Regions from separate parts of the Homo sapiens genome. Here regions 1 and 3 are each linked to region 2. Evidence: fine-mapped expression QTL. A gene starts in region 2. Each other region holds a variant in brackets. All regions are shown on one strand. Distances are from middle to middle.

Region 1 (8,188 bases), 27 kb after region 2:
CTGAAAGCAAAGGGAATACAGAATGAGTAGTGGAAGAAAATAGTTATAAACACCAGCAACGACCATGTAAACAGTTACAGAAATGAGGACTGTAATTATCATGAATATTTCCTCCTTATTTTGTTATGAATATATTTTTGTGTGTGTATATAATATTTGTTTTCTTTCCTTTCTTATTTCTTTATCTGTAACATAATATATATTGACTTTATATCATAGTATTTAAGTATTGATAATTTTACATCAAGTATTTAAGTTACAATATATCAAGAGGAGAAGTAAACATCATTCAAGGATTTACCTCTCTTATGGGGAAAGGGTTATTACTTTTTTTTGTTGTATGCAGGATAATTGTAACATGTTAGGTGAAATAATGCCCTTGTTATTTTCTTGTCTTTATTTGGAAATTAAGTGTGATACACACTTTACAGATATACTATTTGTCTTTAAATCACAGTCAAGTAGACACAGGGTAGAATTGTGATGACTAATTTTATGTGTCAATTTCATTGGGCCATGGGTTGCCCAGATACGTGGTTAAATGTTATTCTGGGTGTATGATATTTTTTGGCTGTGTTCTCACCCAAATCTCATCTCGAATTCCCACATGTTGTGGGAGGGACTCGGTGGGAGGTAACTGAATCATGGGTTCAAGTCTTTCTCATGCTGTTCTCCTGATAGTGAATAAGTCTCATGATAGCTGATGGTTTTAAAAAGAGGAGTTCCTCTGAACAAGCTCTCTATCTTTGCCTGCTGCCATCCATGTAAGATGTGACTTGCTCCTCCTTGCCTTCTGCCATGATTGCGAGGCTTCCCCAGCTACATGGAACTGTAAGTTCAATTAAACCTCTTTCTGTTGTAAATTGCCCAGTCTCGAGTATGTCTTTATCAGCAGCATGAAAATGGACTAATAGAGTAATTTGGTACCAGTAGAGTAGGGTGCTGCTGAAAAGATACCCAAAAATGTGGCATCAACTTTGGAACTGGGTAACAGGCAGAGGTTCGAATAGTTTGGAGGGCTCAGAAGAAGACAGCAAAATGTGGGAAAGTTTGGAACTTCTTAGAGACTTGTTGAATGGCTTTGACCAGAAGCCTGATATTGATATGGACAATAAGATCCAGACTGAGGTGGTCTCAGATGGAGATGAGAAACTTTTTGAGAACTGGAGCAAAGGTGACTCTTGTTATGTTTTAGCAAAGAGAATGGCGGCATTCTGCCCCTGCTCTGGTACCCCCCAAATTGGTACCCCATATGCCCCAAATTGGAGGAGATTTTTGGAACTTTGAACTTGAGAGCAATGATTTAGGGTATCTGGTGGAAGAAATTTCTAAGCAGCAAAGCATTCAAGAGGTGACTTGGGTGCTGTTAAAGGCATTCAGTTTTATAAGGGAAGCAGAGCATAAACATTCAAATAATTTGCAGTCTGACAATGTGATAGAAAAGAAAAACCCATTTTCTGAGGAGAAATTGAAGCCGGCTACAGAAATTTGCAAAAGTAACAAGGATGAAGCTGGAAACCATCATTCTCAGCAAACTAACACAGGAACAGAAAACCAAATACTGCATGTTCTCACTCATAAGTGGGAGTTGAACAATGAGAACACATAGACACAGGGAGGGGAATATCACACACCTGGGCATGTTGGAGGGTGGGGGGCAAGGGGAGTAATAGCATTAGGAGAAATACCTAATGCATGCAGGGCTTAAAACCTAGATGATGGGTTGATGAGTGCAGCAAACCACCATGACACATGTATACCTATGTAAAAAACCTGCATGTTCTGCACATGTATCCTAGAACTTAAAGTGTAAAAAATAAAAATAAAAAATTTTTTTCAAGTAACGAGGAGCTGAATGTTAATCACCAAGACAATGAGGAAAATATCTCCAGGGCATGTCAGAGACCTTTGTGACAGTCCCTCTCATCACAGGGCTGGAGGTCTAGGAGGAAAAGGTGTTTTTGTGGGCCAGGCCCAGGGTCCCCGTGCTGTGTGCAGCCTAGGGACTTGGTGCCCTGTGTCCCAGCCACTCCAGCTGTAGCTGAAAGGAGCCAGTGTCAAGCTCAGGCCATGGCTTCAGAGGGTGCAAGCCTCAAGTCTTGGCAGCTTCCACATGGTGTTGAGCCTGCGAGTGCACAAAAGTCAAGAATTGAGGTATGGGAACCTCTGCCTAGATTTCAGAAGATGCTTGGAAATGCCTGGATGCCCAGGCAGAAGTTTGCTGCAGGGGCAGGGCTCTCATGGAGAACCTCTGCTAAGGCAGTGTGGAAGGGGAATGTGGGATCGGAGTCCCCATACAGAGTTCCTACTGGGGCACTGCCTAGTTGAGCTGTGAGAAGAGGGCAACAATCCTCCAGACTCCAGGATGGTAGATCCAATGATAGCTTGCACTGTGTGCATGGAAAAGATGCAGACACTCAACACCAGCCCGTGAAGGCAGCTGGGAGGGAGGCTGTACCCTGCAAAGCCACACCTGCAAAGTCTTGGGGTGGAGCTGCCCAAGACTATGGGAACCTACCTCTTGCATCAGCGTGACCTGGATATGAGACATGGAGTCAAAGGAGATCATTTTGGAGCTTTAAGATTTGACTGCCCCACTGGATTTCAGACTTGTATGGGGCCTGTAGAACCTTTGTTTTGGCCGATTTCTCCCATTTGGAATGGCAGTATTTACACAATGCCTGTACCCCCACTGTATCTAGGAAGTAACTAACTTGTTTTTGATTTTACAGGCTCATAAGTGGAAGAGACTTGCCTTGTCTCAGATGAGACTTTGGGCTGTGGGCTTTTGGGTTAATGCTGAAATGAGTTAAGACTTTGAGGGACTGTTGGGAAGGCATGATTGGCTTTGAAATGTGAGGATGTGAGATTTTGGACGGGCCAGGTTGGGATGATATGGTTTGGCTGTGTCCCCACCCAGATCTCATCTTGAATTCCCACATATTGTCGAAGGGACCCGGTAGGAGGTAATTGAATCATGGGTGCAAGTCTTTCTCATGCTGTTCTCATGATAGTGACTAAGTCTCATGAGATCTGATGGTTTTAAAAAAAGGAATTCCCCTGCACAAGCTCTCTGTCTTTGCTTGCTGCTATTTATGTAAGATGTGACTTGCTCCTCTTTGCCTTCCACCATGATTGTGAGGCTTCCCCAGCCACATGGAACTGTAAGTCCAAGTAAACCTTTCTTTTGTAAATTGCCCAGTCTCAGGTATGTCTTTATCAGCAGCATGAAAATGGATGAATACAGTGTACCTGTAAGGTTGTTTCCCAGTGAGATTAGCCTGTGAGTTGGTGGACTAAGTAAAGGAGACTCCTCTCCCTAATGTAGGTGGGCATCACCCAGTCTGTTGAAGGCTTGAACAGAACACAAAAGCAGAGGAAGTGAGAATTTGCTCTCTCTCTCTCTGGCT[G/A]ACTGCACTGGGCCATTGGTCTTCTGCTCTTTGACTGGGACTTACCATGTTTCTCAGGCCTTTAGACTCAGAGTGAAACTATCTCATCTGCTTTCCTGGGTCTCCAGCTTGCAGATGGCAGATTGTGAGGTTCTCAGCCACCATAATCACATGAGACAATTCCTTATAAATAAATATCCAATTGGTTCTGTTTCTCTGGAAAACAAAAGGGCACAACTGGCAATCGGATTTATTATTGAATTTCACTTGATTATATACCTCACTTTCCAGAACTCTCTATAAATAGGAGTAAACACAGTTTTTGAAAGTGAAGCAATTAAATTAAAAAATATATAAACTCAAAGATTTCGATCAGCCTAAAACCTCCTTCAGCTGATAAACAACTTCAGCAAAGTTTCAGGATACAAAATCAATGTACAAAAAAATCACTAGCATTCCTATATGCCAACAACAGCCACGCCGAGAGTCAAATCAGAAAGGCAATCCCATTCACAATTGCCATAAAAAGAATAAAATACCTAGGAATACAGCTAACCAGGGAGGTGAAGGATTGCTACAATGAGAATTACAAAACACTACTCAGAGAAATCAGACAAGACACTAACAAATGGAAAAACATCCCATGCTCATGGATAGGAAGAATCAAAGTCATTAAAATGGCCTTACTGCCCAAAGCTATTTACAGATTCAAAGCTATTTCCATCAAACTACCAACAATATTCTTCACAGAACTAGAAGAAAACTATCTTAAAATTCATATGGAACCAAAAAACAGCCTGAGTAGCCAAGGCAATCTGAAGCAAAAAGAACAGAGCTGGAGACATTGAGTTACCCAACTTCAAACTATACTACAGGGCTACAGTAACCTAAACAGCATGATGCTGGTACAAAAACAGGAACATAGACCAATGGAACAGAATGGAAAGCCCAGAAATAAGGCTGTACACTTACAACCATGTGAATCTTCAACAAAGCTGACAAAAACAAGCAATGAGGAAAAGACTCCCTGTTCAATAAATGGTGCTGAGATAACTGGCTAGCCACATGCAGAATATTAAAACTGGACCCCTTCCTTACACCATATACAAAATTAACTCAAGATGGATTAAGGACTTAATGTAAAACCAGAAACTATAAAAACACTGGCAGACAACCTAGGCAATCAATACCATTCAGGACATAGGAACTGGCAAAGATTTCATGACAAAGACACCAAAAGCAATCACAACAAAAGGAAAAATTGACAGTGCGATCTAATTAAACTTAAGAACTTCTGCACAGCAAAAGAAATTATCAACAGAGTAAACAGACAACCTACAGAATGGGAGAAAATATTTGCAAAATATGCATCTGACAAAAGTCTAATATCCAGCATCTATAAGGAACTTAAACAAATTTACGAGAGAAAAACAAACGACCCTATTAAAAAGTGGGCAAAGGACATGAACAGAAACTTCTTAAAAGAAGACATACATGCGGCCAACAAGTGTATGAAAAAAGCTCAACACCATTGATAATGAGAGAAATGCAAATCAAATCCACAATGAGATACCATCTCACACCAGTCAGAATGGCTATTAATAAAATATGTATAAAGAAACAGATGTTGGCAAGGTTGCAAATAACAGGGAACACTTATACACTGTTGGTGGGAATGTAAATTCATTCAACCATTGTGGAAGACAGTGTGGCAATTTCTCAAAGACCTAGAGACAGAAATACCATTTTACCCAGCAATCCCATTACTGGGTATATACCCAAAGGAATATAAATTGTTCTATTATAAAGACACATGGACATTTATGTTCATGGCAGCACTATTCACAATAGCAAAGACATGGCATCAATGTAAATGCCCATCAATGACAAATTGGATAAAGAAAATGTGGTATACATACTCCATGGAATACTATGCAGCCATAAAAAAGAATGAGATCATGTTTTTCATGGGAACATGGATGGAGCTGGAGGCTATTATTCTTAGCAAACTAATTCATGTACAGAAAATGAAATACAGTATGTTCTCACTTATAAGTGGGAGCTGGATCGTGAGAACTATGAGCACAAAGAAGGAAACAACAGACACTGGGGTCTACCTGAGGGTTGGGGGGGTGTGAGTAGACAGAGAACCAATAACTACTGGGTACTGGGCTTAATATCTGGGTGATGAAATAATCTGTACAACAAACCCCCATGACATGAGTTTACCTCTGTAACAAAACTTCACATGTACTCTCGAACCTAAAATAAAGTTTTTTTTTTAAATGATCATACGCAATAAAGAATTTTGACAGGAAAATAACCTTAAAAAATAAAAATATATAAAATATAACAAAATTATATAGGGAATGACACAGAGATAACTCAGAGAGAAACTATTAGCTTTGATAACTTGAAAAACAAAAACACATTGATAAAATTTTTATGCAAAAAAATGGACTTAATGAAATGTTAGCAGAGCAACAATAGAAGGGGGTTACTGCTAGTATTTTTAACAGAAAAAGTGAAAGTGGTGGTGACTTTAAGCAGACCAGCATTTACCTGTTGGCAGATGACTTAGGTGTTGCTTTTTGTTCTGTTGTGAACGAGCCACATGACTGGAGAAGTCAACTTTCTTCTTCTGGGAGAAAGGTTGCGTGGTCAGCCTGAAAAAATTACTAAATAAAAATTACCTGGACACTTGCTGAAAATACAGATGCTCTGGCTCGGGCCCAGAGATTCAGGTTCAGCAGATTCAGGGTGGTGCCTGGGAATCTGCATTTTATCGTCTTCAAGGCTGAATCTGATGAGAAGACAAGTTTGGAAAAAACAGTAAAAGATTGTTGCAGATATTGTGAAATGTTTTGCTAGCTAGCAGGGAATGTCAATATAGATAGCTTTAAGCAGAAAAAAATGTAAAACATTGTGTTTTTTAGTTTTTTTCAAGTAATATAACATAAGGTTATAGGGGGAAAATACCAAAATGAACAATAATTTTCCTGACTAAATAATGAGCCAAAACTCTTTCCCCTAGCAACCACTATTAAGTTGCTTGTGATTCCTTCCAGAACCACAAGAATATGTCTACATAATATTCTAATATACTACAGTGTATAAAGAATATGTATACATAAATATACGTAAATATACCTGGTCTTTATGTACCTATTTGTAATAAAAGGAAACATACTAGGCTATTCCATACCTTTTGTCACTTAAAGAATTTTCTAGGCAATTGTTATATGCCAGCACACACAGATCTACTTCCTTCCTTTACACAGCTGCATAGCTGGTTTTCTACTGTGTGTGAACTACAATAATCACTGTTGATGGGCACTTCAGTGGCTTTCAGTTTTCTGCTACTACCAAAATACACTGCAAAGAGCATCCTTTCTCAGATGCTTTGGTGAACTTTTGCAAGAATGTCCATGGGGTTACTTCTTAGCAGCTGGGTTTACAAAGGATATGTACATTTACAAATTTGATGAATATTACCAAATTCCCTGCAGAGAAGTTGCACTTATCTGTAATCTCACTATTGGCATATGAGAGTACTCATTCTCCATGCCCTCACCAGCACTGAGTTTCATCAGATTTTTTTTTCGAGACAGAGTCTCGCTCTGTCACCCAGGCTGGAGTGCAGTGGCCCGATCTTGGCTCACTGCAAGCTCCGCCTCCCAGGTTCACGCCATTCTTCTGCCTCAGCCTCCGGAGTAGCTGGGACTACAGGCACCCGCCTCCAGGCCCAGCTAATTTTTTGTATTTTTAGTAGAGACGGGGTTTTGCCATGTTAGCCAGGATGGTCTCGATCTCCTGACCTCGTGATCTGCCCGCCTTGGCCTCCCAAAGTGCTGGGATTACAGGCATGAGCCACTGTGCCCGGCCTCAAATTTTAGTATTTTATTCTGTAGTCAGGCAAAAACTCATGTTTTCTTTTTAAATAAATACGTCTCAGTTTTGACACTGCTATTGATTTAAAGGGCTTGAGAGATCTGTTCTTTTGCCCCTTCTACTACAGAGCTATGATCTACTTCTTGCTGTTCCCCATCTCTGCTGGTTCCTTTCTGAATCCAAGCACCAGAAAGAGTAAGAATTCCTTTCCCCCTTTCTCTAACCACATTTTTCTTGCTTTCTCACAGACAGATCCAGGTTATCATTTCCTCCTGCTGCTTTCACATGGTTCCCTGTCCTGTTGGTTGCAGGTCCAATGTCTGACACTATGAAAGGGCATGGAGGACTCTTGAGTTGATGACACTAAGCCTCTGCTCTGGGGCTGCCCCCAGTTCCTTGCAGAGCTCTTTCTTTTGATTGGGCCAGGAGATAAAGAGACATCAGCGTAAAAGCCCTGCTGAGCAGCAATCCCATTGCCTTCAGTGGCACCTAATCCACTTGAGCTCTTCCTGGCTCTCTCACGGGTCACTGGCTTTGAGGACGCAGGCTGCTGGGGTGGCAGTGCCTGCTAACAGGCCAGAGACTGCGCAGGACCCAGGGAATGAGAGTGGTGGCAGGAAAGGGAAGGGGCCTTGTTGACTCACTCGCTGGGCAGCAAGTGCTTAGTGACAAGCAGTAAACAAAGACAGCGGCAACAGTGCTGGTGGCAGGGAGCTCCGCGGACAGACTTGCAAGAGACCCCTGCTCCTTGTTGGAAAGTTGTCCCATGATGAAGGCCTAGACCTGGTCACGGAGACTTTTGGATGCAGCCTTTAACGAAGGACGCAGGTATTCCTTGGCATCATTCAGTTTTCTCCTATAAATCTGGTCAGGGAAAGGGCAAACTTCTTACTGGGTCTAGGTATCCG
Region 2 (8,188 bases):
CAGTTCACTGACATAGGCAAATGATTCATATATAAAGCTATGTGGTTATAATGACTTCCTTGGACCACATGAATCAGAAAAGCTACTACCCATACCATTGACTTGACCAGAGACCTCTAGAGCACTGGAATCCTAATGTCAGACATTATTTTGTATTTCCACTCGTGCAACAAAGCATCTCAACCATGTAGATGACTGAAATATGTCAAAATTCAACCCGCTGGCAAAGCAGACCAACAAGAAGCAGGCTCCTATTCAACAACCTCTTAGCACTAGGATAGTTGGGGACTAGTCATTTAACAACAAATTCCTTCAAGTTGTTTCACTGAACATCTCATCCTCACAAGGTCACTTTGATAATATCAGGCATGGAGCAAATAGTTAAGATTATAACCACATTAATTTGTATACAATTTATTCTTGCACTGACTTCCTTTCCAAATGGCATTTCCCCCAGGATCTAAAGGAGTATGAAGGATATAGTTTCCTATTCTGCCAGGACAGGACATTTAAAAGGAGCCCTTTTCATACTTACTAAAGGAATATATTTACTAACAGAATCGATGCTATATCTCTTACTTTAAAGGATAATTTGAAGTGAAATTCAGAGTGACTGCTAATGGATATGGTGTTTCTTCTTGGGGTGATGACAATGTTCTGGAATTAGTGATGGTGATCAAGGCACAACACTGTGAAAATACTAAAAACCGAAATATATACACTCTAACTGGTGAATTTTATGTCAATTAAATTGCAATAAAGCTATTTTTAAAAACCAACAATTTGGAAAACAAAGTAACACAACTCTGGTTCTTTACACAGCCTGTGAGCTACTGCCAAAGGATTGTCAGTAACCCCTACTAGAATCTGACATACCCTAACTAGGTAAAGCAATAAAACTTTGGTATCTCAAAGATTTTCAACCATCATCTTAAAAAAGTATTATTTTCTTATTTCTTCATTTCCACTTTACAGCAAATAATAAGAAACTCATTAGTTAACTCATTTCATATTCTTTCAAATACAAAACAAACGCTAAACTGTATTTAGTAAGTGGAAAAGAGCTTTAACTTCGATAAATCAATTATTTTGAGTTTTAGGCTCATATTTTGTACCAATTGTGTTAATACAAGTTAGAACTTAAAACCAAACATTTCAAGTAAACATTTCTAAAATATTAGAAATATTTCTAATAAAACATTTATGTGGTTTTGTCCTCAATTTTCCACAATAAGAGTCACCAAAAAACTTTCAAATAATATTCACAAAATTATAAATGCAATCATTTTAGACCCCTACTGAAATACCAGTTTATGAGTGCCTGTGTGTGGATTACGTACATGCACACACACGGACACACATAAACTAGCACATACACAGAAACACACACTCCACAACCTACTTTATTTATCATATTAAAAAAATATTTAGACAAGATTTTATTTTAGGACAGTGAATGACCTACACGTGATTCAAAAGCCCATGTCATCATAACAGATAATGTACATGAACTGACCATTTAGCCATCTGATGCGACAGTTGCATGAAGCTTCCAAAACTTTATGGAGAACATTACGGTTTTTTTTAAGGCTTGATTTTAAATATTATCAATTACAAAGAGCTTTTCATCAATCCGACTTTTATTGAACACTTACTATATTCCAGGCTAGGTGGTGGAGAAACAGATGCAAGACAGGCCTGCCCTCAAGGAAGTCCCATTTTGATTGCTTGCTTTTGTCAGGCACAGCACTAAACATGTTCACTTAGAGCATCTGACCTCCTAGGTTTAACGTTAACCACAGCAGGGGAATCTGAGGTAACCATTACAAATGACTGTAAGGCTGCAAGACTGGAAAAAATAAAATTTAGAAATAAATAAAAGCTGTTGTATATTTAGACCAAATCTAATTCTACTTCCTATTACACTTGAACTTCCAGATATACTGCTTAAAAAATGACCCAGAATATAACCATACCTTCCTTAACAGACATCACTTATGTAACTGTCTCATTTAAAGGTCCATCTATTATACTTCAGTCAAAGCATCCTCTTCCATGAAAGGATACTTTACCTTCACACCAAACCTCTTCATCTGAGTACGGTACTAAACAGCTGCTGAATGAATGAATGAATGAAAAAACAGATGTTCTAATTGCCAAGGAGGTACTTGCTGGATGCTTATCTCAAAACACAATGGACTGACGGACCAGAATTCTACTGGAAAGATCGCTGGATTTCAGAGGTAAAAATAGTAATCACTGGACAATGCCATGTAGTCAACATGTTATTAAATTCGCAGTAAAGACCAAGCAGGGAACTTTCAGAAATAAAAACGGAAAGTGTTCATCAGGGTACTTTAAAATGGACTTGGTTCTACCATCTCTGAATCGGGAACACAAATGCGAGACAAAGAGATGGGAGGGTGGGGTGAAAAAGTCAAAAGGTCACCACCGATGACCCTCAAGAGAAATGCGCGCTGACCACCGAAGCTCGGGCCAAGCTGGATGGACACCTCCCACCCGAGCCACGGGCCTGGGCTCTCTGCCCTGCAGCCCAGAGCTGCAGGCCACTCTGGCCCTTTTCAGCGCTGCTGCCTGCGTTCGCCCAGAACGTTAGCACAAAGAAAGCATCGAGAAGCAAAATACGGTCCCTATGGGCGCGGGGCAGGCTTGGGGACCTGCCGGCAGAAGCGCTCTCCCCGGCTCCCCGCCGCCCCGGAGGCAGCCAGGGCGCGGCGGGCCGCAAAGACACCTCCGTCCGACCCTTGCCGAAGTGTTTCAGAACTTGCCACCCACCCCCCCGCTCCATTTTCTTCTCCCGCCGCGGAGGCAGGACCCACGCGAAGAGGACGCGAGAGGACAGGCGGGCGGGGCTCGCGGCGGCAGGCGGGCTGGCGGGCAGCGGAGCGCACCCAGGTCCCGCAGCCCCACGCCCCCTCGGCTGGCCCCCGCCTCCGCGCCGCTATTGTTCCCGCGCCGCCCCCGCCCACCGCGCGCTCCCGCCCCCACTCCCAGGAGGGGGTTACGGCTGAGGAGAAGGCGGCGGCGGCGGCAGCGGCACAATAACATAAACACGACGGGGCCGCCTGCCGTCCCGGCCCTGCGGCGTCCGCCGCACTCACCCGGCAGCGCAGCGAACGGCGACAGGGAAGCCCGCCAGCGGGGACAGGGGCCGTCCGGGGTGGTCGCCGCGGCCGTTACCCAGCGCTGCTCGCGGCTCCGCAATCCAAGCCGCGTCGTCCGGCCTCGGCCGCTCGGCTGAGTAACAGAGACGCGGGCCGTCACCGCGCACGCCCGCGCACGTCATCGCGCAGGGCCCCGCCCCCGCGCCTCCCGAGCGGCCGGCGGGGCGGGGCAGCCCCGGGGCCCGGATTGCGGGGGCGGGGCCGCCGCCCGGGGACGGCGCTACTCCAGGGGTTACGAGAGGACTTGCGGAGGTCGCTTGGAGGCGGAGCCGCGGAGAGAGCCTCCGAGGGCTGTGGGTGAGGGGCGTGGCCTGGAGCGGGAGGGGCGGGCCCTGTGGCGGCACGTGGCGGCGCGTGGCCCCAGGGGACCGCATCTGGTTGGCGGCGGTAGCCAGGTCAGAGCTTAAGCCTTCGGGCCTCGTCGGCACAGGGTTGAAGGGCAGGTGCGCTTAGGCCTAACCTGCGCAGCGAACAGGCACCCCCTTCCGGTACACACACCTGAGTGATGAAGAGCTGGTTACCTTGACCGACAATATGTTCCATTCTGAGGACACCTGTCCGGGTCCCAGAAACCTACAGAGAGATAAGTGTTCTCTTCAGCTGCCCGGGAAAAGCTGCCTCCAGTTTTTCCAAAATCCACCTCCTCCGAGATTCCTTGCAAATCCACCTCTTCCCAGATTCCTTGCATTACCTGGTTTACTTCTGAGGCCCCACAAAGCGTGTAAATGTTACAGAAGCGATAAATTGACAAGTCCTTTAAATATCCAACAACGGGTGGAAAGGCGTTTGAACTACCTACACCATTCGGTAGAATACATTTTAGCAATTTAAATGCCATGTGTTCAAGGAATTCTTAACAACATAGGAACATGTTCACAATGTATCATTAAGAGAAAGAAGCAAGAAACAAGTCATATATAGAATGGTCCCACTTAGATACTATATATACACATAGAAAAAACCTGGAAAGAAATACACCAAATTATGTTAACAATGGTTCATCATTGGACTATGGAATAAAGGGTGACTTGGTTCTCGTTTATACTTTGGGTATTTTCTCATGTTTTCCGAGAGGAATAGTTATGTTCACAATCAGAAACAAGTAAGTTACTTTAATAATGAATATATAAATATTTGTTGAATAAATGAATGATTTCAGGTAAACTACTTTCCTATTACATGTGGGGCTGGCCTGTTTCTGGTGATTCTGAAAGGGAACATACAGATGATTATTCATTCATTCTCTTCCCATTTCCTCTCTCCCTCCCTCTCAACCTTCTTAATTTCCTTCCTGCCATCCTTTGTTCCTGCAATAATTATTTATTGCATGCCCATTCAGTGCCAGGCAATACAGTAGAGTTTACAGATTTAATCACTGTACTATGAAAGTAATAATAGTAAACGCAAAATTATCACTGTTTTATAATACAAATTGTTAAGGATACATAATACTATGAAACCAATTAATACACTAGTTAATAAGGCCAGAAAAGATTTCCCTGAGGAACTGTCACTTGAGCTGGGAATAGGTTTGACTAGACAGAGAATATTTTAGAGGTAGCTTTGCACGCAAAGGTCCTCTGATGAGATTAAGCAGGATAAGATGGAGAAATTCAGGAAAGGCCAGCTCTGCTGGAGGAGCAAGGAAGAAGGAGCTATGAGATGAAGTCAGGAAGATTGGTAAAGGGACCAAACGTAGGACATCCATATTGGCCATGTTGAAAATCTTTTTATCCTAAGTGCAATGGGAAGCCCCTGACATATTCAGCAAAGGGTGTGGCATGGTCAGAATAGCTTCTTGAAAAGATTCCTTATTGGAAAGAGCCCAGGTGGATGTAGGAGTAGCCTAGACGGTAAGAGGTGGAAGCTTGATCTAGGGTGATGGTCATGGAAATAGTTGATGGACATGGAAAGATCTGTGAATTATTTAGGAGGTCCAACGGGCAGAACTTGCACATTCTCCAAGTGATGGGTTATGTGGGGCAATGAAGGAGAGGGAGTCATCAAGGAAAACTCAAAGGTTTCTGGCTTGTGGCCAAGGATGGATGTTAGTGCTGGTTTACCAAGATGGGAATCTTGGAAAAGGACCAGACTGGCATTAAAATATCATGAGAGCAGGCTGTTTGGCTGTTTGAAGGCTTTTGAGATGCCCAAAACTGATGTTAAGTTGGTGGTTGGATATACAGAGCTGAGGTTCAGCTAGTTAAGAGACGAATCATTGACAGTGAGTGATTCCTTGAAGCCTTGGGATAGATGGGTCAGCCTAGGCCTGAGGAGAGGGCCTGCAACCAGGCTTGGGGAACTTCAGTGTTAAAGGGCCACAAAGGGGAAGATGAGTCTGTGATGAGCTGCCAGGGAGATAGAAGGATAACCAGGAGAGAGGTGTTCAAGAAGAAAGGGCTGATCAATAATATTAAACATAAGAGGAGGCTTGGAATCCTGGAGTAATAGAACCAGAAGTGAATTAGAGTGGGCTGGGAAATGAATGGGAGGTGAGAAAATAAAGGTGGTGAATATGGATGAGTCGGGCAGTGAAGTAGGACACAAGCATATTTTACATCTGATGGGAAGACTGTTGAGAGGGAGAGGTTGAATACACACAAAAGAGAAGGAAGACGTGTGTTTCCAGAGAGAACGGGGTGTGATTGAGTGCACAGACAGAGGTACCACCTACTCTTCACCAGACAAATTAAAGGCCTGGAGGTAACAAAAAACAATACAACCCTTAGAGCTGTTGTGAAGTGAGGGGAGTTGCTGGGAGCAGAGCTCCAGAGTTTCACGCCCAGTTCTGTGATGCTATTGTTAATAACCGCCTCTGTCTCACTCCACAGAGTGAGCTTCTGACTTAGTATCAGTCTACCATGGTCAGCTTCTGATTATCTACAACTAGAAAGAACATTCCACATATTTACATATGTGCGTTTGTGTGTTTGTGTGTGTGTATGATTGATTTCAGAAAGCATTTTGCTATTTCTGATGGAATGTAATTATCTCTGATATTCTGCAAATTCAAAATGCTTTTCTGTAACCCAGATGCAGTGTTGGGCCTTCTTCTTCCTTTTCATGCAATTCTTTCTTGTCAACCTGTTAGGGTTCCTTGTTAACCTATTAAGGGGCTGACTCAGAAAAAGAGGAAAATATAGTGAATTCAGGTTTCTTGTCTCTTGTCCCAGGGGAGCTGTCTTGGGGACACCTGGTCTTTGGATACCTCTGAGGCTGGGATGGGGAAAGGAGAGAAGAGGAACTGTAGGCCTTTCAAACTCAGCCTCTGCTGGAGCCCTGAGGGATGTTCAAGAAGAGGTTGCACTCCACCAGAGTATCTCTTCCCTTGTCATCCCAGACCACACACAATGGATTGCACTGAAGATGTTTCTTTGGCTAAGGTAGTCAGGTGAATATCACCAAGCTGTTCAGGGTGCAGAAACTGAAAGCTGAGACTTCAACTTACTTCCTAATTCCCTGACCTCACCCCAGGGGTGGGGAGTTGGGTTGGTGGGAAGGTACTTACCAACTAAAGCCTGCAGAAGGGCATCTCCAAGGACACTCCCTCTCCCCTGACTCCACCTCCACCACCATCCTTCTCTGTTAGCCTTGCTTTCAAGCCTCCCAGTCTCGTCTCCCACCCATGTCTCCAGTCAAGTCTACTTTTCCCCCAACAGGAGGGAGAGGTTCAGCACCTTGGTCAGTCAGTCCCTGACTCAGGGATGTTCTTTGAGAATCTTTCAAGGTGGAGCCTGCTGGCTCCCGATAAAGCAAGACAGACCCTGGATGCATGAGTAGAGGAAAGATGAGTGTTCGTATTGTAAATCCATCCTCCAGCTGCAAGAACTGTGGCTCCTCAGGGGTAGGAAAGGGCCAAAAATGGCCCGAGCTCCTCAGTCGCAACTTGAACAAAATGAAGTGGAGACAGAATGGGCAGAACTCTGATTTGAAGTTACAAGTGGTACCCTGTTTTTGCTTACAGGTACATGCAAGAGAGAACCAACTAAGCTAGTCAAGTTTATAGATTGAGTACACATGCATATTTCCATGGGAAAAAAAAAAGGTCAGCATTTATTCCTCTAAGACGATGGTTTTCAAATTGTGGTTCCCCAGACCAGCATCAGCTGAGAACTTGTCGAAAATGCAAATTCTCATACTCACCTTAGACCGGCTGAGTGAGAAACCTTGAGGAAGAAGCCCAGCAATCTGTGTTTTAATGAGCCCCCCCAAGGCATTTCTGATGCCCATTTGAGTTTGAGAATCCCAGCAGCAGGACACTGACTCACAAGTCACCCTGCTCATTTTAATCACCTGGGTGGGGAGGGGCTTTAAAACTGCCCACACCCGGCTGAACGTGGTGGCTCACAGCTGTAATCCTAGCACTTCGGGAGGCCGAGGCAGGTGGATCACAAGGTCAGGAGTTCAAGACCAGCCTGACAAACATGGTGAAGCCCCATCGCTATTAAAAATACAAAAATTAGCTGGTCGTGGTGGCGCAAGCCTGTAATCTCAGCTACTCAAGAGGCTGAGGCAGGAGAATCACTTGAACCTGGGAGGTGGAGGTTGCAGTGAGCCAAGATCACACCACTGCACTCCAGCCTGGGTGACAGAGCAAGACTCCGTCTCAAGGAAAACAAAACAAAACAAAACACTACCCACACCCAGGCTCCATGTCTGGTGCTCCTTCTCCAGTGGTCTGGGGTGGAGCCCAGGCTTCTGTAGCTATTTTCACATCCCCTCAGGTAATTTTAATTTGTAGCCAAAAATGAAAGCCAGTGCCCTAAGAAATTTGGCGTATTTTCTGTTTTTTTAAAACCTCAGAGCAACTGGACAGAACATCTTGCTCTCCATTAGCTTTTGTGCTTTCATTCTTTATTCTTACTTTCATTATTGGTTCTTTTTTTCCAATGTTTTGCCCACCTCCCACATCTTACACATATGCTAAATTGTCCTCTCTCCATCCACACCCACTGCCTTAGCTTGGGCTGCCATCACAAAATATCATAAACTAGGTGGCTTAA
Region 3 (8,188 bases), 45 kb before region 2:
TTTTTAGTAGAGATGGGGTTTCGCCGTGTTAGCCAGGATGGTCTTGATCTCCTGACCTCGTGATCCGCCCACCTCGGCCTCCCAAAGTGCTGGGATTACAGGCGTGAGCCACCACGCCCAGCCCTATTGAGGACTTTTAATAAAGTTTCAACTACTATAATTTTCAATTGTATAAATTCTAGCTATTTTTAAAAAATCTCTTTGAATAGTCTTTATAGTTTCTGAATCTTGGAACATATTTTCAACTTTTGTTGAAACATATGAAACACTTACTTCATATTCTGTAGCTGCCTATTCCTATTTTCCAGCAGGTCTGCTGTTGAGTCCTGCTCACAGTGCTTAGTTTCTTTATGTTTTTCTTTTTGACTATCACAGTTGTTCTACTTACTTAGAATTTTATTTCTAGGAAAACTTTCAACTCTGGGATGGAGATGAGTTTCTCCAAAGAGAATTTCTGTTAGCTTCTACAAGAGTCTGGGGATACTCACTGCCAGTCTATGTATACTGCCATTATGGGGATAAATTATCTTAGGGAATTCTTTTTCTGTTTTTTTTTTAGATCACCTACACAGCGTTAAATTCGCACTGCAAATTATACAAGGGTCAGCTGGTTGCTTAAAATTCTCAGCAGTGATCTTGCCCCCATATTCACTCCGACAAGGTTTTAGCTATACAAATAATTTTTGCAGTGTGGTTCCCGACCAGCAAAATCACTATCATCTGGAAACTTATTAGAGGTACAAATTTTAAAAGTCTCACCCCAGACCTACTGAATCTTACACTCTGGGGATGTTGCCCAGCAATCTTTGTTTTAACAAGTCCTCCATGTGATTCTGATGCACATTAAAAACTAAGAAGCATGCAGAAAATCAACTTTCCCTGCAATCTTGAAGGATGGTGGGATTGGTGGTGGTTTCCAGTTTAGCTGAGTCTCAGCTTTAAGGTGAAGAGGAAGAACGTATCAGATTCATCATCCCAGAAAGAAAGACCTTATTATTTCCTCAGGTTCCTCAATGCTCTCTGATGCTGAGGAAAGGAAACCAGATTTGGCAAATGCCCCCTGGGCAAAAACCAGTTTAAATGTCACAGACAATTTCCCAGACATCCTGTACCTTCCCTTCCCTTGTTTTCTTTTTTTCTCTTAAGAACTTTCACTTGATGCTTTAGCTAGGATAATTTAAAAAAATTTTTTTTTAATTTTGAAATAATTTTAGATTCAAAGGAAGTTCCAAAGATAGCAAAAGAGGTCCCCTGTACCCTGCACCCAGTTTCTCCCATGGTTACATCTTACTATAATATAAAATCAAAACTAGGAAACTGACATTAGTACAGTGTGTGTGTATAGCTATGTATCGCTTTATCACAGGTGCAGATTTGTGTCACTACCACCAATCACAATCAAGATACAAAACTGTTCCATCGCCACAAAGACTACCTGCTTTATAGTCACATTCACTTCCCTCTCTGTTCCCATAACCCCATCCCTAATCCCTGGCAACAACTAATCTGTTATTTGTCCTCCATGTCTATAATTTTGTCATTTCAAGAATGTTCTATAAATGCAGTCATACATATGTGACTTTTCGAGCTGACTTTTCTTCACTCAGCATAATGTCTTTAAGAGTTCTGATTAGTTGCATATACATCACATTCCCTTCTTATTGCTGAGTAGGATTCCATGATACAAATGAATCACAAATGTCCCAGAGATTTTTTTTTCCATGTTTTAAGTTTTATGGTTGTAGGGTTTACATTTAGAATCTATGATCCACTTGCAGTTAATTTTTGCACAAGGTTTAGGTCAAGGTTTATTTTGTTGCCTATGGCTATCCAACTGTGCCAGTACCATTTGAACAGGCCACTTTCCTCCACTGAGTCTCTTTTGTACGTCTGTCAAAATCAATTGGCTTTACTTGTGTGGAGCTATTTCTGGGTTTCTAGTCTGTTCCACTGACCTATGTGTCTATCTGTCTGCCAATACTACACTGTCTTGATTATGCTATCTTTATAAGTCGAAATTGAGTATAGAGTGTTTCCTCCCACCTTATCTTTTTCAAAACTGTATGAAAAACTAGCTACTCTGGTTCTTCTGTCTTTTCATATAAATCGTAGAAAAATTTTGTCTATATTTACAAAAAGAACCTGCTGAAATTTTGTTAAACTTGTATTACATCTATTTTAGGAAAATAGTCATTTATAACATGCTGAGTCTTCCAATCTATGAGCACAGTATGTCTTTCCATTCATTTGGGTCTTTGATTTCTTTCATCAACATTTAATAGTTTTCATCCAACAAGTCCTATGCATGTCTTGTTAGACTGATATCTAGGTATTTCACTTTTTTTTTAGCAATTCCAAATAGTATTTCACTTTTAATTATGGTTTTCACACGTTCATTGCTAGTGTAGAGAAATTCAATTGCTTTTTAAATGTATCTTGTGATCCTGCTACATTATTAGTTCCACAGATTTTTTGTAGATTACTTAGGATTTTCTAAACAGATGATCACGTCACAGGCGAAAAGGAAGGTGTTTCATTTCTCCTTTTCCAATTGTCAGGGCTTTCCCCCCGCTTGTTTTACTGTGCTGGGTGGAACTCCCAATATTTTGTTGAATAAGAGTTGTGAGTGTGTGCATCCTTGTCACCTTGTTTCCAATCATAAGGGGAAAGCATTCAGTCTTTCATCAGGTATGATGCTGTTTATTTTCTATAAATATTCTTTATCCAGTTGAGGAAGTTTGCTTCTATTCCTAGTTTTCTAAGAGTTTTAATCATAAATGGTATTGAATTTTGTCAAATGCTTCTATAGCATTTGATATATTTTCTTCATGATCCTGTTAATATGGTTACATTGATAGATTACATTGACAGATTTTCAAATGTTGAATCAATCTTGCATTCCCAAAATAAAGTCCACTTGGTCATTGTGTTTAATTCTATTTATATACCGTTGGATTATACTGATTAACATTTTGTTAAGGATTATCTACATCTATACTTAAAAAGGAGTTGGTCTTTATTGGTAGGTTTTTTTTTTTGGTATTGTCTTTGCTTTTGGTAGCAAAATAATACTGATTTCATAAATGAATTAGGAAGTATTCCCTTATTTTCTGGCAGAGACTACACAGAAATAGTGTAAATTCTTCTTTAAGCCTTTGCTAGAATTCTCCAATGAAATCATTCGGGCCTATTTTCATTTTAAAATTATAAAGTTCTATTAAGTTGTAGCACTATTCAAATTATCTATGCCATACTGAGTGACTTGCAGTATGTTGTACTTTCTGAAAACTTAGTTTATTTCATCAAAGTTGTCAAATTTATTTCTGTAGATTTTTAAAAATAGTATCCTTTTCATGTCCACAGGCTCCAGAGTGGTGGAGCATCCCAAATCTGATAATCTGAAATCCGAAATGCTCCAAAATCTGAAACTTTAAGAGTACCAACAAGACACTCAAAGCAAATGCTCACTGGAGCATTTTTAGATTTTGGGTTTTTGAATTCGGGATGCTCAACCAATGCAAATATTCTAAAATCTGAAAAAATCTGAAATCCGAAACATTTTTGGACCCAAGCATCTCAGATGAAGGATACTCAACCTGTATCTCTTATTTTACTCCTGATGATTTGTGTCTTCTTTTTTTTGTGTCAGTTTTGCTACAGTTTTACCCATTAAGATTTTATTTTGGTTACTGTATTTTTCAGTTATAAAGTTTCCAATTGGTTTTTCTTTACCTATTTATTTGCTATGCTGAAAACTTCCTTTTTTTTTAATTTATTTCAAGCATGTTCATAACTGCTTGTTGAAGCACTGTCTTGATGACTCCTTTAAAATTTGTGTCAGGGCGAGGTGCCATGACTCATGGGTACAATCCCAACACTTTGGGAGGCTAAGGCAGGAGGATCGCTTAGCCCAGCAGTTTGAGACCAGCCTGGGCACCATAGCGAGACCTCAGGAGGCTGAGGCGGGACAATCATTCAAGCCCAGGAGTTTGAGATTGCTGTGAGCTATGATCACATGCCACTGCACTCCAGCCTGGGTGACAGAGTGAGACTCTGTCTCAAAAAAAAAAAAAAAAAA[T/AAAAT]TCAAAGTTATTTTTTCTAATTCTGTGAAGAAAGTCAATGGTGGCTTGATGGGGATAGCATTGAATCTATAAATTACTTAGAGCAGTATGGTCATTTTCATGATATTGATTCTTCTATCCATAAGCATGGAATGTTTTTCCATTTGTCTGTGTCCCCTCTTACTTCCTTGAGCAGTGGCTGGCAGTTCTCCTTGAAGAGGTCCTTCACATCCCTTGTAAGATGTATTCCTAGGTATTTTATTCTCTTTGTACCAATTGTGAATGGGAGTTCACTCATGATTTGGTTCTCTGTTTGTCTATTACTGGTGTATGGGAATGCTTGTGATTTTTGCACATTGATTTTGTATGCTAAGACTTTGCTGATGTTGCTTATCAGCTTAAGGAGATTTTGGGCTGAGACGATGGGGTTTTCTAAATATACAACCATGTCATCTGCAAACAGAGACAATTTGACTTCCTATCTTCCTATTTGAATAACCCTTATTTATTTCTCTTGCCTGATTGCCCTGGCCAGAACTTCCAATACTATATTGAATAGGAGTAGTGAGAGAGGACATCCTTGCCTTGTGCTGGTTTTCAAAGGGAATGCTTCTAGCTTTTGCCCATTCAGTATGATATTGGCTGTGGGTTTGTCATAAACAGCTTTTACTATTTTGAGATAAGTTCCATCAATACTTAGTTTGTTGAGTTTTTAGCATGAGGGGCTATTGAATTTTGTCAAAGGCCTTTTCTGCATCTATTGAGATAATCATGTGGTTTTTGTCATTGGTTCTATTTATGTGATGGATTATGTTTATTGATTTGCATCTGTTGAAACAGCCTTGCATCCCAGGGATGAAGCAGACTTGATCATGGTGGATAAGCTTTTTGATGTGCTGCTGGATTTGGTTTGCCAGGATTTTACTGAGGATTTTCGCATCAATGTTCATCAGGGATATTGGCCTGAAATTTTCTTTTTTTGTTGTGTCTCTGCCAGGTTTTGGTATCAGGATAATGCTGGCCTCATAAAATGAGTTACGGAGAAGTCTCTCTTTTTCTATTGTTTGGAGTAGTTTCAGAAGGAATGGTACCAGCTCCTCTTTGTACCTCTGGTAGAATTCGGCTGTGAATCCGTCTGGTCCTGGGCTTTTTTTTGGTTAGCAGGCTATTAAGTACTGCCTCAATTTCAGAACTTGTTATTGGTCTATTCAGGGATTCAACTTTTTCCTGGTTTAGTCTTGGGAGGCTATATGTGTCCAGGAATTTCCCCATTTCTTCTAGATTTTCTAGTTTATTTGCATAGAGGTGTTTATAGTATTCTCTGACGGTAGTTTGTATTTCTGTGGGATCAGTGGTGATATCACCTTTATCATTTTTTATTTTGTCTATTTGATTCTTTTATCTTTTCTTCTTTATTAGTCTGACTAGCAGTCTATTTTGTTAATCTTTTCAAACAACCAGCTCCTGGATTCACTGATTTTTTGAGGGGTTTTCCGTGTCTGTATCTCCTTCAGTTCTGCTCTGATCTTAGTTATTTCTTGTCTTCTGCTAGCTTTTGAACTTGTTTCGTCTTGCTTCTCTAGTTCTTTTAATTGTGATGTTAGGGTGTCGATTTTAGATCTTTCCTGCTTTCTCCTGTGGGCATTTAGTGCTATAAATTTCCTTCTAAACACTGCTTTAGCTGTGTCCCAGAGATTCTGATACATTGTGTCTTTGTTCTCATTGGTTTCAAAGAACTTATTTACTTCTGCCTTAATTTCATTATTTACCCAGTAGTCATTCAGGAGCAAGTTGTTCGGTTTCCATGTAGTTGTGTGGTTTTGAGCGAGTTTCTTAATCCTGAGTTCTAATTTGTTTGCACTGTGGTCTGAGAGACTGTTATGATTTCTGCTCTTTTGCATTTGCTGAGGAGTGTTTTACTTCCAATTATGTGGTCAATTTTAGAATAAGTGTGATGTGGTGCTGAGAAGAGTGTATATTCTGTTGATTTGGGGTGGAGAGTTCTATCGATGTCTATTAGGTCCGCTTGGTCCAGAGCTGAGTTCAACTCCTGGATATCCTTGTTAATTTTCTGTCTCGATCTGTCTGATATTGACAGTTGGGTATTAAGTCGCCCACTATTATTGTACGGGGGTCTAAGTCTCTTTGTAGGTCTCTAAGAACTTGCTTTATGAATCTGGGTGCTTCTGTATTGGGTGCATATATATTTAGGAGAGTTAGCTCTTCTTGTTGCATTGATCCCTTTACCATTATATAATGCCCTTCTTTGTCTTTTTATCTTTGTTGGTTTAAAGTCTGTTTTATCAGAGACTAGAATCGCAACCCCTGCTTTTTTTTTTTTTTGCTTTCCATTTGCTTGGTAAATATTCCTCCATCCCTTTATTTTGAGCCTATGAGTGTCTTTGCACATGCCCAAAAAAGAGCCCGTATAGCCAAGACAATCCTAAGCAGAAAGAACAAAGCTCGAGGCATCACACTACCTGACTTCAAACTATACTACAAAGCTACAGTAACCAAAACAGCATGGTACTGGTACCAAAACAGATATATAGACCAATGGAACAGAACAGAGGCCTCAGAAATAACACCACACATCTACAACGATCTGATCTTTGACAAACCTGACAAAAGCAAGCAATGGGGAAAGGATTCCCTACTTAACAAATGGTGTTGGGAAAACTGGCTAGTCATATGCAGAAAACTGAAACTGGACCCCTTCCTTACACCTTATACAAAAATTAACTCAGGATGGATTAAAGACTTAAATGTAAGACATAACACATAAAAATCCTAGAAGAAAACCTAGGCAATACCATTGAGGACATAGGCATGGGCAAAGATTTCATGACTAAAACACCAAAAGCAATGGCAACAAAAACCAAAATTGACAAATGGGATCTAATTAAACTAAAGAGCTTCTGCAAAGCAAAAGAAACTATCATCAGAGTGAATAGACAACCTACAGAACGGGAGAAAATTTTTGCAATCTATCCATCTGACAAAGGGCTAATATCCAGAATCTACAAAGAACTTAAACAAATTTACAAGAAAAAACAACCCCATCAAAAAGTGGGTGAAACATATGAACAGACACTTCTCAAAAGAAGACATTTATGCAGCCAACAAACACATGAAGAAAAGCTCATCATCACTGGTCATTAGAGAAATGCAAATCAAAACCACAAGATACCATTTCACGCCAGTTAGAATGGCGAACATTAAAGTCAGGAAACAACAGATGCTGGAGAGGATGTGGAGAAATAGGAACACTTTTACACTGTTAGTGGGAGTGTAAATTAGTTCAACTATTGTGGAAGACAGTTGGCGATTCCTCAAGGATGTAGAACCAGAAACACCATTTGACCCAGCAATCCCATTACTGGGTATATACCCAAAGGCTTATAAATCATTCTACTATAAAGCCACATGCACATGTATGTTTACTGCAGCACTGTTCACAACAGCAAAGACTGGGAACCAACCCAAATGCCCATCAATGACAGACTGGATAAATAAAAAGTGGCACATATATACCATAGAATACTATGCAGCCATCAAAAAGGATGAGTTCATGTCCTTTGCAGGGACATGGATGAATCTGGAAACCATCATTCTCAGCAAACTAACATAGGAATAGAAAACCAACCACCACATGTTCTCACTCTTATGTGGGAGGTGAACAATGAGAACACATGGACACAGGGAGGGGAACATCACACACCGGGGCCTGTTGCGGGGTGGGGAGCTAGGGCAGAGATAGCATTAGGAGAAATACCTAATGTAGATGACGGGATGATGGGTGCAGCAAACCACCATGCCACGTGTATACCTATGTAACAAACCTGCACATTCTGCACATGTATCCCAAAACTTAAAGTACAATAAAAAAATTCTTGTCAAATAATTCTAGTATCTGTGTTATTTCAGTGTCAGCATGTATTAACTGTCTTTTCTAATTTGAGCTGACACTTTCCTGCTTCTTGGTATGAGAGGTTTTTTTCATTGAAACCTGGATATTTGGGTTATTACATTAGGTGACTGGATCTACTTTTAATATTCCATTATAGTAAGCTTCCTTTGACATTGCTCTGGTGGAAAAAATGCCTAGTGGGGGGTGGAAGTGCAGGTTTC

Which allele goes with the higher level. Alleles are on the strand shown, and positions count from the first base shown. SD is a standard deviation of normalised expression in the study named. Not every link is listed here.
With allele G in place of A in region 1, the expression in lymphoblastoid cells of the gene that starts at base 3,267 in region 2 is higher (moderate effect, 0.56 SD a copy in GTEx).

What was found. PIP is the estimated chance that this variant, and not a neighbour inherited with it, causes the effect.
Region 1: its variant is fine-mapped to the expression of MAPK8 in lymphoblastoid cells (GTEx, PIP 0.98).
Region 3: its variant is fine-mapped to the expression of MAPK8 in whole blood (INTERVAL, PIP above 0.99).

Annotation. Positions count from the first base shown.
Region 1 is chr10:48,274,463-48,282,650 of GRCh38, reverse strand. It overlaps FRMPD2 (FERM and PDZ domain containing 2), which reads left to right and starts at 7,955. Exons shown (of 29, transcript NM_001018071.4): 1 at 7,955-8,108. The coding sequence starts at 8,084. RefSeq lists an enhancer at 2,978-3,147. The variant G/A (reference allele first, on the strand shown) is at 3,411.
Region 2 is chr10:48,301,756-48,309,943 of GRCh38, reverse strand. MAPK8 (mitogen-activated protein kinase 8) reads right to left here and starts at 3,267. Exons shown (of 12, transcript NM_001323329.2): 1 at 3,123-3,267. RefSeq lists a silencer at 2,687-3,636.
Region 3 is chr10:48,347,163-48,355,350 of GRCh38, reverse strand. All of the region lies in intron 1 of MAPK8 (mitogen-activated protein kinase 8), which reads right to left. Among named protein-coding and RNA genes, the nearest start is that of MAPK8, 45 kb to the right of the region's middle. The variant T/AAAAT (reference allele first, on the strand shown) is at 4,079.